2 separate regions of the Homo sapiens genome follow, and region 2 is linked to region 1. The links come from fine-mapping of genetic effects on gene expression. A gene starts in region 1. The other region holds a variant in brackets. All regions are shown on one strand. Distances are from middle to middle. Region 1 holds the start of TCIRG1 (T cell immune regulator 1, ATPase H+ transporting V0 subunit a3). Region 2 has its middle 16 kb from the start of UNC93B1.

Region 1 (5,366 bases):
CTCCCAGTGACACCGGCTCCACCCCCACCTTCACTCTGGCCTCCCTCCTCTCGGGCTGCCGTCACCCTAGACAGGACCCCACTGGCCCAGGCACTTAGGCCCAGGGCTGCCCCGGGGGTGGCTGGAGCCCTCGCTGCTCCCTGTGGAGCTGCATGTGCTGAGTGGTAGGAGCGGGCATCTCCACCGGGTACCCTGGGGCTAGCCAGGGAGCACTGCTGTGGGGGGGCTGTCCCCTGAGGCCCGGGCCGCCCGGCAGCAGCCGCAGCCTTCCAGGTGTTGAAACCAACAAAAGTGAAACTACAGAATGGCGGGGAAGGGCCCGGGGCCTTGCTCAAGGCCGATGTGGGGTGGGGGCAGGTGCCAGGCCACCTCCAACCCGCCCTGGATGCTGGGGCCCCTCCAGCTCCAAAGCCACTGCTCTCAGGGCCCAGGGCCCCTCTGTGGGAATCAGTTGCTTAGCTCGAAAATTAGGGGGAGGGGACAGGCCTGGTCAGGGCCCCGCCTGCCCAGCCAGTCACTTCCTCCCCTGGGTCTGGTTTACTTAACTCTAAACAGGGAAACGCAGCCCCAGCCCCAGCCTGGGAAAGGAGAGAAGGAGGGAACGAGGGAACACTGAGCAGATGGCCCAAGGCTGCAGGTGGGCAGGGCAGGGGGCAGCGGGGCTGGGTTCCATCCCTAAGGACCAGGCCCGGCCACAGGGCAGAGGGACTTGGAGCCCAGGCTGAGATTGGGTGTGTGACCTTGGGCAAGTCTCTCACCCTCTCTGTGCCTCTACTTCCTCTTTGGGTGAATGGGACGTGGCACCCCTGACAGAGACAGGATCTAGGGAGGTGACAAAAATAACCAGAGCCTCAACTGAATCCCTTCATCCACACGACCTCACACTAATCCCTGGGGGGAGAAACCCTTGGGGAGGGGGTACGGTGCTTTTGTTTCATACAGGACTCCACTGACACTTGGAGAGGTAAAGTCCAATGTTATGTGCCCAGCACAAAGGGTGAGCTCAGAGGAGGGTTGTGTCTGACCTGGCTCCCTTTGGGGCTGTGCTGGCCAAATAAGGAGGTGTGGGGAATCAGCTCTGGGGATCTGGGGAGGGGTCACCCCTGGCTCAGGGCCATCAGGGCTCCCACAGCCACTATGCCGAGGGCTCGAGGGCCGGGCTCCTTCCAGCACTTCCCAGGGGGTGGGGGAACAACCTGTAATGGGCGGGGGGAAAGGTGTGGGGACGTGATCAGCCCCCGTGCCTGGCATGTGAGGCTCCACTGGCTCACCCCCTACCCCTGTCCCCCTTGGTCCCCGCTCTAGCCAGGGTCACCCAGCCACTTTTATGGTGTAAATGAATACGCCTCCATCCTGCGGCCCTGGGGTCCAGGCTCCAGCCCACTCCTCACCCTGTGCCCCTTTCCTGGCCCCTCCAGGAACCCAGCAGGTCTCTCTGCACCTCTGCCCTCCCCTCCAGATGATGGGAAGGCAGTAGGAGAGGGTCTGGCGCCCCCTCCATTCCAAATGGGGTGGGCTCTGGAGTCAAATGACCCAGCTGGTCTCCAGCTCTGACACTTCCTAGTTGTGTGGTCTCAGCTTCCCCATCTGTAGAATGGGTCCCTCCCTCCAAGGAAGCAGCAGCGGGGAAAGCTCCGCGCACACCAGGCCCGGGAACGCTGGGCTGTGTTGGTAAACACCCCATCCTTCTCCTCCTCCCTTGGGGATCCTCCGTGGCCCCCCGCAAGGCCTGACACCCTGCGGGGTGGCGGGCTGAGCTGCATTCACGGAGCCAACTGGGTGGGGCGCCAGGATCTCCTCCCCGGGGCAGGGGGAAGAGGGTGGGCAGGAAATTCTGGGGCTCCGCAGACCCCGGCAGGGGCACTCACCCCGGGTGTGCTGCGCGCCGCGCCTCCGCTGCTGGCTGCCCCGCTCCGCGCACGCCGGGCGGGACTCAGAACTGCACTCCCGCCAGCCCGGGACTAGGCGCCGCTCACTCCTTTCCGGGCAGGCGGGACGACGGGGAGGGGCCAGGGACGCCCCGCCCCCGGCCCAAGGCTCCACTGGAGTCCAGGAAGTCTGGGAGAGGTTGAGCCCAGGCTGTGGCCTGGCGGACGGGTCCTGAGGCGCTTAATCCCGGAGAGGAGGCCTGGAGAAAGGAGCGGATAACAGACCACTGCCAACCGCGCGCGTCTATGCTGGCCCCGATGCAGGGGCAGCTCCGCTCAGGCCCAGCTCAGGATAGGAGATGAGACCCTGCTCTCCTCTCACTTCGAGGCTTGTGCGCCTCTGGCTGATGGGACCCCAACATTCGCAGGCTCATGGGCTTGGGGTCCCCAGGATGCTCCCCCACCTCCGGGACCCCTCCCTTGGGCGGCAGTGAAACCCGCCGGTGCTTACACCTTCCTGCTCTTGACCACCCTGGAGAGGCCCCGCTCTGGCCCTTGGGTGGGTGGCTGCCCCACTCTGGGCCTGCTTCACTGGCAGCAGGACACAGGGCCAGGCCATGCTGCCTTGTTCTGCCCAGCGCCCCGCACCCAGCAGGCCCTGGGAGATACCCTGGGGCCAGAGGCCAGCTGTCAGCTCCACCTGCAGCTGCAGCCGCGGGGGGTAGAGGGGGGTGTCACTGTGACCTTGCTCCAGGTCAGCACCATGGGCGTCATCAGGTCCTAGTGCCTGGAAGCTGGGACTCACGACCGTCCAGCTGCCTGCACTTTGGACAGGCCTGGGGCATTCCCACTGGAGGCCAGGGGCCCTTCAGCTCTGGTGATCCCTAAGCCCCACACAGCGAGCACAGGCCTGTGGGGCTGCGGCAGGGGTGGACAAGTGGAGCCCCAGAGCCGGGCCTGGAAACTGAGTCACAGCCAAGCTCAGCTGTGGTTCCTCAGAAAATTGGGGGACTTGTGGTTGGGCGCCATAGGCCTGTTCTGACAGGGTCGGGGCCTGATACAACCAGACAGCCTGAGTGGGGTCTCAGCAGTAAGTGCCTGGGAGACCACGGTAAGGGAAAGAACCCAGCGGTGAGCTGGAAAGACTGACCCGCTTGGAATAGAAGTATTCAGTGCACAGCTACAGGCTCCATGCCACGCTCTGACGGCGGTTACGTCTGGGAAAAGCTAAACCGGCGGTGCTTCAGGAGTCCTGCGCCTGCCTTGTTTTTGGAAAGAACACCTGTTTTCATCAGTGGCCAAGATGAGCTGCGGGCCAGACCTGTGGACACTTCCCGGGCTCCAGGCTTCCCCTCGCCTCCTGCAGTTACTTCTCACCCCAGTGCCACAGGCTGTGGGGCCCAAGCGGGAGCCTGGCCACTTTGGCATTAGATGGCAATGCCTGGTCTAGGAAGGAGGCCCAGGTGTTAGACCTGAGAAAAGCTCCCTGGGAATGGGCTGGGAGAGGCTGGTGTTTTTGCTGCAGGCCTTCTCAGAGCCTTGAATGTCTACCATGCAGTACCTGCCAGCAGGCACACAGCAGCTGGAGCATTTCCAACACTCACTGGGCCAGGAAACTTGTTCTTTCGAAGAAGTAGCTTTTTACAAAGTAGTGCTTTGTAAAAAGCACTTTTGGAAATGATGGTAGATGGGGGGGGTCAAGGTCTCTGAACTGAGTTTTATTATGGGATGTGCCCTGCATGGCCCTGAGCAAGCCCTTTCACCTCTCGGAGCTGGTTTCCTCACTGCAAATGAAGTGAAATCCTTCCACAGTACTTAGCACAAGTTCAGGGGGGCTGCTTTTGGCCATTATATGGGCAAGGGGCTTGTGTGTGGCCCTAGGGAAACCCCACCGTGTCGCTGGGCCAGCAAAGCAGGAAGTGGTGAGCAGTGGCCGGGCCAGCACCCTGGCGTAGGGAACACAGGAAAGAGGATGTGGCTGGACGCAGGCCAGCTCAGGGCCAGCAGGGCCTGTGTCACCCTCGTGTGACTGTCACCCCAAGCAGGCTTCCTCCTACCCCCAGCAAGGATGCCCCGGCCTGAGTTTCTGCCACTTGCTGTTCTTCAGCCTGAGGTCTTGGGAGGCTCCAAGTCCTAAGCGTCTTACAAGTGGATGGCTCTTGGGAGACAGGAGGCCCAGGCCCCAGCCAGGACACCCGGGAGAGTGGGAACGGCAGGTCTGTGGTGACCTCTGGCATCGCTGGGCCTTGGGGAAGACGCCCAGGAAGAGGCAGGGTGACAGGGATGCTGCGGCCTGTGGTCTAGCCATGAGAGCCTGGTGGGGCCCTGGAGTCTACAGGAAGGCAGGGCTGGGGCAGCAGGACTCCAGAGAGCATAAAGACTAGGTGGCGACCTAGTCCAGTTGGAGGCACCACAGGCCTCAGGCAGGCCGGGAACGGCCCCACCCTGGACCACCAGAGTCAAGACAAGAGGCCGTGGGGTCGGAGTGGTTTTATTGGGCAGCAGGGGCTGCGGGCCGGTGGGGCGTCACCGATACAAGTAGTCAGCCTGGATGTTGGCGGCGATCTCGGCCTCCCACTTGTCCCCGTTGTTGAGCAACTTCTCCTTGTTGTACAGCAGCTCCTCATGGGTCTCCGTGGAGAACTCAAAGTTGGGGCCCTGCAGGTTGAGGTGCAGGGACGGTGGTTAGGCCCTGCTGAGGAGCCTCAGGCCCCCTCCCACCCGGGGGCCTCACGTGCCTCGACGATGGCATCCACGGGACAGGCCTCCTGGCAGAAGCCGCAGTAGATGCACTTGGTCATGTCGATGTCATAGCGGGTGGTCCGGCGGCTGCCATCAGCTCTTGGCTCAGCCTCGATGGTGATGGCCTGCGGGAGGGGCCACCAGACACTGCCACGCTGCCCTGTCACATCCCAGCCCCCAGGGCCCCTGTCACTGCTCATCCCCACCCCTGGGGTCTGCCAGAAGCCCTCTCCCCTCAAAGGCCTCCTGGACTCCGGCTAAGAGGCCGCCCTGCACCTCTGGTGCTCGCGCCTGTCTCCTCAGCACGTGCCCTGCTGGCGTCCCTGCCTTGCTGGTTTTTTTTTTTTTTTTTTTTTTTTTGAGATAGAGTCTCGCTCTGTCGCCAGGCTGGAGTGCAGCAGCACAATCTCGGCTCACTGCAACCTCGGCCTTCCCGGTTCAAGTGATTCTCCTGCCTCAGCCCCCTGAGTAGCTGGGACTACAAGTGTGCATCACCACGCCCAGCTAATTTTTGTATTTTTTAGTAGAGATGGGGTTTCACCATGTAGACCAGGATGGTCTCGATCTCTTGACCTTGTGATCCGCTTACCTTGGACTCCCAAAGTGCTGGGATTACAAGCGTGAGCCACCGTGCCCGGCCTGCCTTGCCTGTTTGTCAGCTGCTGGCGTCATCTGCCAAGAACCCCCTCTCACGAGGGGGCTGTTCACCGCTTTGTTCAGTGTAGCACCCGCTGCCCTAAGGGTCTCACCCTGCGG
Region 2 (5,366 bases), 50 kb after region 1:
TACCCTTTCCCGGCTACAGCCTCAGCTGCGATGCCCACGAGAAACAGGCTGGTGGAGGGGCAGACCCCCTACAAGGCCTGAAGGTGCCGTTCCTCCACCCGCTCCTCTTGTGGCCAGAGGAGAGGACACCCCCGCCATGAAGAGCTCTGAACGGTTGGGTGAGGACAAGTGGGGGCCGTGGGAGGGCCATGGAGCCCCCAGCTGCACCCCAGCAGGCCCGGGGCTGGCCCACACCATTCCTCACTCCCCACAGCCTCTTTACCCCTGACTTTGGCGAGACCCTCGTCCGTACCTCCAGGCTCCATGCCTGCCTCAGCATCGCTCTATGGATTCTCCCAGCCCTAAACTGGCCCCATCTCTCCTCTCTGCCCTCATGTGAGTTTGGTTCTTGAAGCCTCTAGTGGTCCCTGGGGCCAGACTCTGTGGCCTTGGACAGGGAGTCTGCCATCTGAGCCACAGGTTCCTTCTCTGTTGAGTGTGTGAGGGAACATGTTGGAGCCCTTAGTGTGGCGGCAGCAAGCGCACCAGGCCCTGTAAGAAACACAAAAGGGTGCGGCGGGAGACTTGACATTTTCTAAATCTGGGAGGGAACGCTGCCTGCCTCACGCCGACCTTCAGTGACAAGCAGACTCAGAAGCGGTCCCGAGGTGCCACCATAACCTGGGTGAAGGCCAGCACTGTGTGCTTCCAGTTCCCCCTCGGCATCTGTAGACTGAGTGTTCTCTGGAGGTGGCTGGCGACATCCTCTAGGCAGGCTCCAGCAAAACCAGTCGGAGTTGGGCAACCTGACGCTCAGATGATTCACCTCTGAATGGAGGGCAAGGTGATATTTGGAAGGGTGTGGGCCCCTGGGATGCTGGGCAAACGGGGAGCAGGTGCCTGGATAGTGGGCCTACAGCTCTTCCCAGTTCCGAGTCAATTCCAATGTCCATGGTGCCAAGGAACAGAGGCTGTGATGTTGAGCAGACTTGAAGGTGATCCAGGCACATGGAGTGGCCACTCAGGGGCTTGGCTCCTGGCTGTGCTCTTCCTATCTGGGCATTTCCCATGAGAAGGCTTCACAGGCCACCTGGCTGCTCCTGGCACACGGAGAATGCCCAGATGCTGACATGTGCCAGACAACACATATTTACACCTGATAGGCCACACACATGCAACATGCAAACACACGTGACGGGTAACACCTGTGACAGACACTACATGACAACACACATGCACACATGATGGGAAACACATATCACAGGCTGTGCGACGGGCAACACAGCGCAGGCAGTGCGACGGGCCCTGGCAGCAAGCTCAGCAGGCTGGCTCTTTTCGAGCAGGAGAAGAGCTCATTGTAAGAGATGACACTGGCGTAGGTGGCACCTCCCCTGTCTCCATCACCCCCGGATAAGGTGACTGGGTGGAGGTTCTGGACCCCTGAGTGGATAAGCAGGTTGTGTCATGGCCTCCGTGTCTGATTGCCACCCTCGCTCCCAAAGCAACTCTGTGATTTTGTCGATCTGCACTGTGGGGATTTTTCTTTTTCTTTCTCTTTTCTTTTCTTTTCTTTTTTTTTTTTTTTTTGCAACGGAGTTTCACTCTTGTTGCCCAGGCTGGAGTGCAATGGCATGATCTCAGCTCACTGCAACCTCCATCTCCTGGGTTCCAGCGATTCTCCTACCTCAGCTTCCCGAGTAGCGGGGATTACAGGCGCCCACCACCAAGCCAGGCAATTTTTTTTTTGTATTTTTAGTAGAGACGAAGTTTCACCATGTTGGCCAACCTGGTCTCAAACTCCTGACCTCAGGTGATCCACCTGCCTCGGCATCCCAAAGTGCTGGGATTATAGACGTGAGCCATCACGCCCAGCTGGGATTTTTCAATTATGTGATTCCAAGAATCTCCAGTCCAAGATTTTCCCTATCTTTAAGTTCTCAGTAGCAGGTTAGATAACCTGAGAAGTCTCCCTCTTCAAAACACCTAGAAATGCTGGGTAAGAAACAAATGTCCTTTTAACTATAGAGCTGAGGCCGGGCGTGGTGGCTCACGCCTGTAATTCCAGCACTTTGGGAGGCTGAGGCAGGCGGATCACCTGAGGCCAGGAGTTCAAGACCAGCCTGGCCAATGGTGAAACCCCATCTCTACTAAAAATACAAAAATCAGCCAGGAGTGGTGGCAGGCGCTTGTAATCTCAGCTACTTAGGAGGCTGAAGCAGGAGAATCGCTTAAACCCGGAAGGCAGAAGTTGCAGTGAGCCAAGATCACGCCATTACACTCTAGCCTGGGCAAAAGAGTGAAACTCCATCTCAAAAAATATATAAATAAAATAAAATAAATATATAGCTGAGTTCTTCAGAAAATAAGTTAAGTCCCCTAAGGCCAGAAGTGAAGAGGAGAGTGAGAACCAAGGTGGGGACAGAGGAGCTGGTGCTGCAACTGCCTGAGGGCAGGGCTGGGTTGAGCGTTGGTATCCCTTACAAGGCAGGGGGT[T/C]AGGGTTACAGTCAAGCATGATGAAGTTGGGGCCACAGAAATGCAACACCTTTAGAGAAAGGGACAGAAACATTTCCACCCAGGGGAACAGAGAGAGGTGAGAAATTTTGAGCTTTAGGTGGTGAACAAGTTTCCCATGAGATCGTTGCGTTTTCAGGCCTCTCTTATGTAAATGTGGAACTCCTACAATAAAGTCATGCCACCTGTGTGGTCTAGGAATGCCAGAGTTGAGAAATTAACACTAAAAAGTTGCTTTGGGCCGGGAGTGGTGGCTCACGCCTGTAATCCCAGCACTTCAGGAGGCTGAGGCAGGTGAATCACCTGAGGTCAGGAGTTCGAGACCAGCCTGGCCAACATGGTGAAACCCCGTCTCCACTAAAAATACAAAAAATTAGCCAAGCCTCGTGTGCCTGTAATCCCAGCTACTCTGGAGGCTGAGGCAGGAGAATAGCTTGAACCTGGGAGGCAGAGGTTGCAGTGAGCTGAGACTGCGCCACTGCACTCCAGCCTGGGCAACAAGAGGGAAACTCTGTCTCAAAAATAAAAGTTGCCTTGGCTTAGTGGTACCCTGGGACCACTAAAGCCCCTCTGAAGCTCAGCTCACGATCCAAAATTACAGAACACACAGGAAACACATCACCGCGAGAAAAGGCAACAGACATAAAAAAGAGCAGGATTCGACACCCGCTCCAAATACCCCCAGCTAGGAGAGAGAAGCTGTCCAACAGGTATGTGAGATAGGCAGCATCTATAAGGGCTGCCAGCGATCTCCCACCCTTGACTCTTCACAACTTTGTGTAATTTCCATCCCTTGATTGTGGGCTGGACCTAGTGAGTTTCTTTTAACCAACTGAATTCTTATTTTACTATTTTATTTTATTTTATTTTATTTTATTTTATTTTATTTTATTTTATTTTATTTTATTTTACTTAGAGATAGAGTGGCACTGTGTTGTCCATGCTAGGCTGAAACTCCTGGCCTCAAGCAGTCTTCCTGCCTCGGCCTCCCAAAGTGCCAGGATTATAAAGCATGAGCCACTGTGCTCAGCAGCCTTCGCATTTATTTATTTTTGAGACTCGCTGTATCGCCTAGGCTGGAGTGCAAAGGCACAATCTCGGCTCACTGCAACCTCCACCTCCCAGGTTCAAGCGATTCTCCTGCCTCAGGCTTCCAAGTAGCTGAGATTACAGGCGCCTACCACCACGCCTGGCTAATTTTTGTATTTTTAGTAGAGACTGGGTTTCACCATGTTGGCCAGGCTGGTCTCGAACTCCTGGCCTCAGGTGATCTGCCCGCCTTGGCCTCCCAAAGTGCTGGGATTACAGGCGTGAGCCACTGAACCTGGCTAACCAACTGAATGCTAAACTGGCCTGAGAGATTCTCACTCCCTGGTGTCCACACCCCGCTAATGCCCTCCTGTGAGTGAATGTGATGGGCTACAGTACTTTTGAGCTAATCAAATGGGACGCTACCTAATGGACCTGAACCAGTCAGGCAAGTCTTTTAAAAGAAAGGGACATGGCAGAGAGGCGCTCTTCTGCAGGCTTGGAGTAGGGCAAGTGGCCATGGTGCCACCTACAAGGGGGCCCCTGGAAGCCGAGAGTGGTCCCCAATGGCAGCTTACAAGAAAACAGGGACCTCAGTGCCCCAACGTAGGGAACAGCCCCTCTCCCCCCCTGGCTCTTAGGACCCCCATCACAGGGGGGTGAGGCACCCCCTGCGATGCGGGGAGTAAGAGCTAGCCCCTCTTCCCCCCCTGGGTTTTAGGATCCGCGGTGGACTCACAGCCTGTTTACCTTATTTTGAGCAACACCATCTCCCCCTCTGGAGATTATGAACTGTTTCACAGATGGGTGTATACCCTCAGTGTACAGAGGGTGTACACCTTTCTGTATTGGGAGTAATATCATCCTCTTCCTCCATGAATATTAAGAAGAGTATCACAGGGGTGTTTCCACTCCCTCGGATATCGCGTGTCATATCCTCCTGTCCCACGTTGCAATTAGAAACAATATCAGTGGGGGCGTGTCCACCTTCTGTGATATTGAAAGTAATATCATCCTCTTCCCTCCAGGATCATGGGAACAATATCCCTGGGGGGTGTTCACTTTCTGCCATATATGTAGTCATATCACCCCCTCCGCCTTGGAATATTATGAAGGACCATCTCACACAGGGGTGTATACTTCCTGCGATATTGGGAGTAATATCAACCTCTCGGCCTCTGAATATTAGGAAGAATATCACAGGGTGGGTGTACACCTCCTGCTCTATTATGGGGAGTAATATCATCCTCTCCCTTTCAGGATATTAATAACAATTTCACAGGCTGGGTGAACACAGCCTGCGTTGCTGGAATTATTATCACCCTCTCCCCCTCGGGATACTAGGAACAATATCACAGAAGAGGTGTACACTCCCTGCGATATTGGGAGTAATATCATACGCTTCTTCCGTGAATATTAGGAGCAATATCACCGGGTGGCTGTACATTGATTGCTATGTTGGCAGTCATGTCATACTCTACAAGCTGGGTATTAGGATCGGTGTCACAGGGTGAGTGTACACCTACTGTGATATGAAAACTAATATCATGCTCTCCATCCCTGGATATTAGGAACATTATCACAAGTAGATGTACACCCCCTGCGGTATTAGCAGTAATAATATTCTGAATTATTAAACATCAGTCTTATTAATAATTATCAATGGTAATATTAATTAACAGTATAACGTTATTAATCATTAATGATTATTTTTGAGATATGATTATGCATGATTAAAATTAATTATTAATATTAATGTCACTTTTAATATTAGTTATTAATCTTAATATTAATTATTGTTTTATTACCAACATCACTTATGATTGAAGTAACATTAATTAGTGATA

What was found. PIP is the estimated chance that this variant, and not a neighbour inherited with it, causes the effect. A credible set is the group of variants that fine-mapping cannot tell apart.
Region 2: its variant is the best candidate, but not a certain one, in a credible set for the expression of TCIRG1 in T cells (TOPMed, PIP 0.58).

What each region holds. Positions count from the first base shown.
Region 1 is chr11:68,035,622-68,040,987 of GRCh38, reverse strand. TCIRG1 (T cell immune regulator 1, ATPase H+ transporting V0 subunit a3) reads right to left here and starts at 1,963. Exons shown (of 20, transcript NM_006019.4): 1 at 1,869-1,963. NDUFS8 (NADH:ubiquinone oxidoreductase core subunit S8) reads right to left here. Exons shown (of 7, transcript NM_002496.4): 6 at 4,607-4,735; 7 at 4,344-4,526. The coding sequence ends at 4,395. RefSeq lists silencers at 1-91, 1,772-1,851, 1,912-2,091 and an enhancer at 1,983-2,604.
Region 2 is chr11:67,985,251-67,990,616 of GRCh38, reverse strand. No RefSeq gene overlaps it. Among named protein-coding and RNA genes, the nearest start is that of UNC93B1, 16 kb to the left of the region's middle. The variant T/C (reference allele first, on the strand shown) is at 2,473.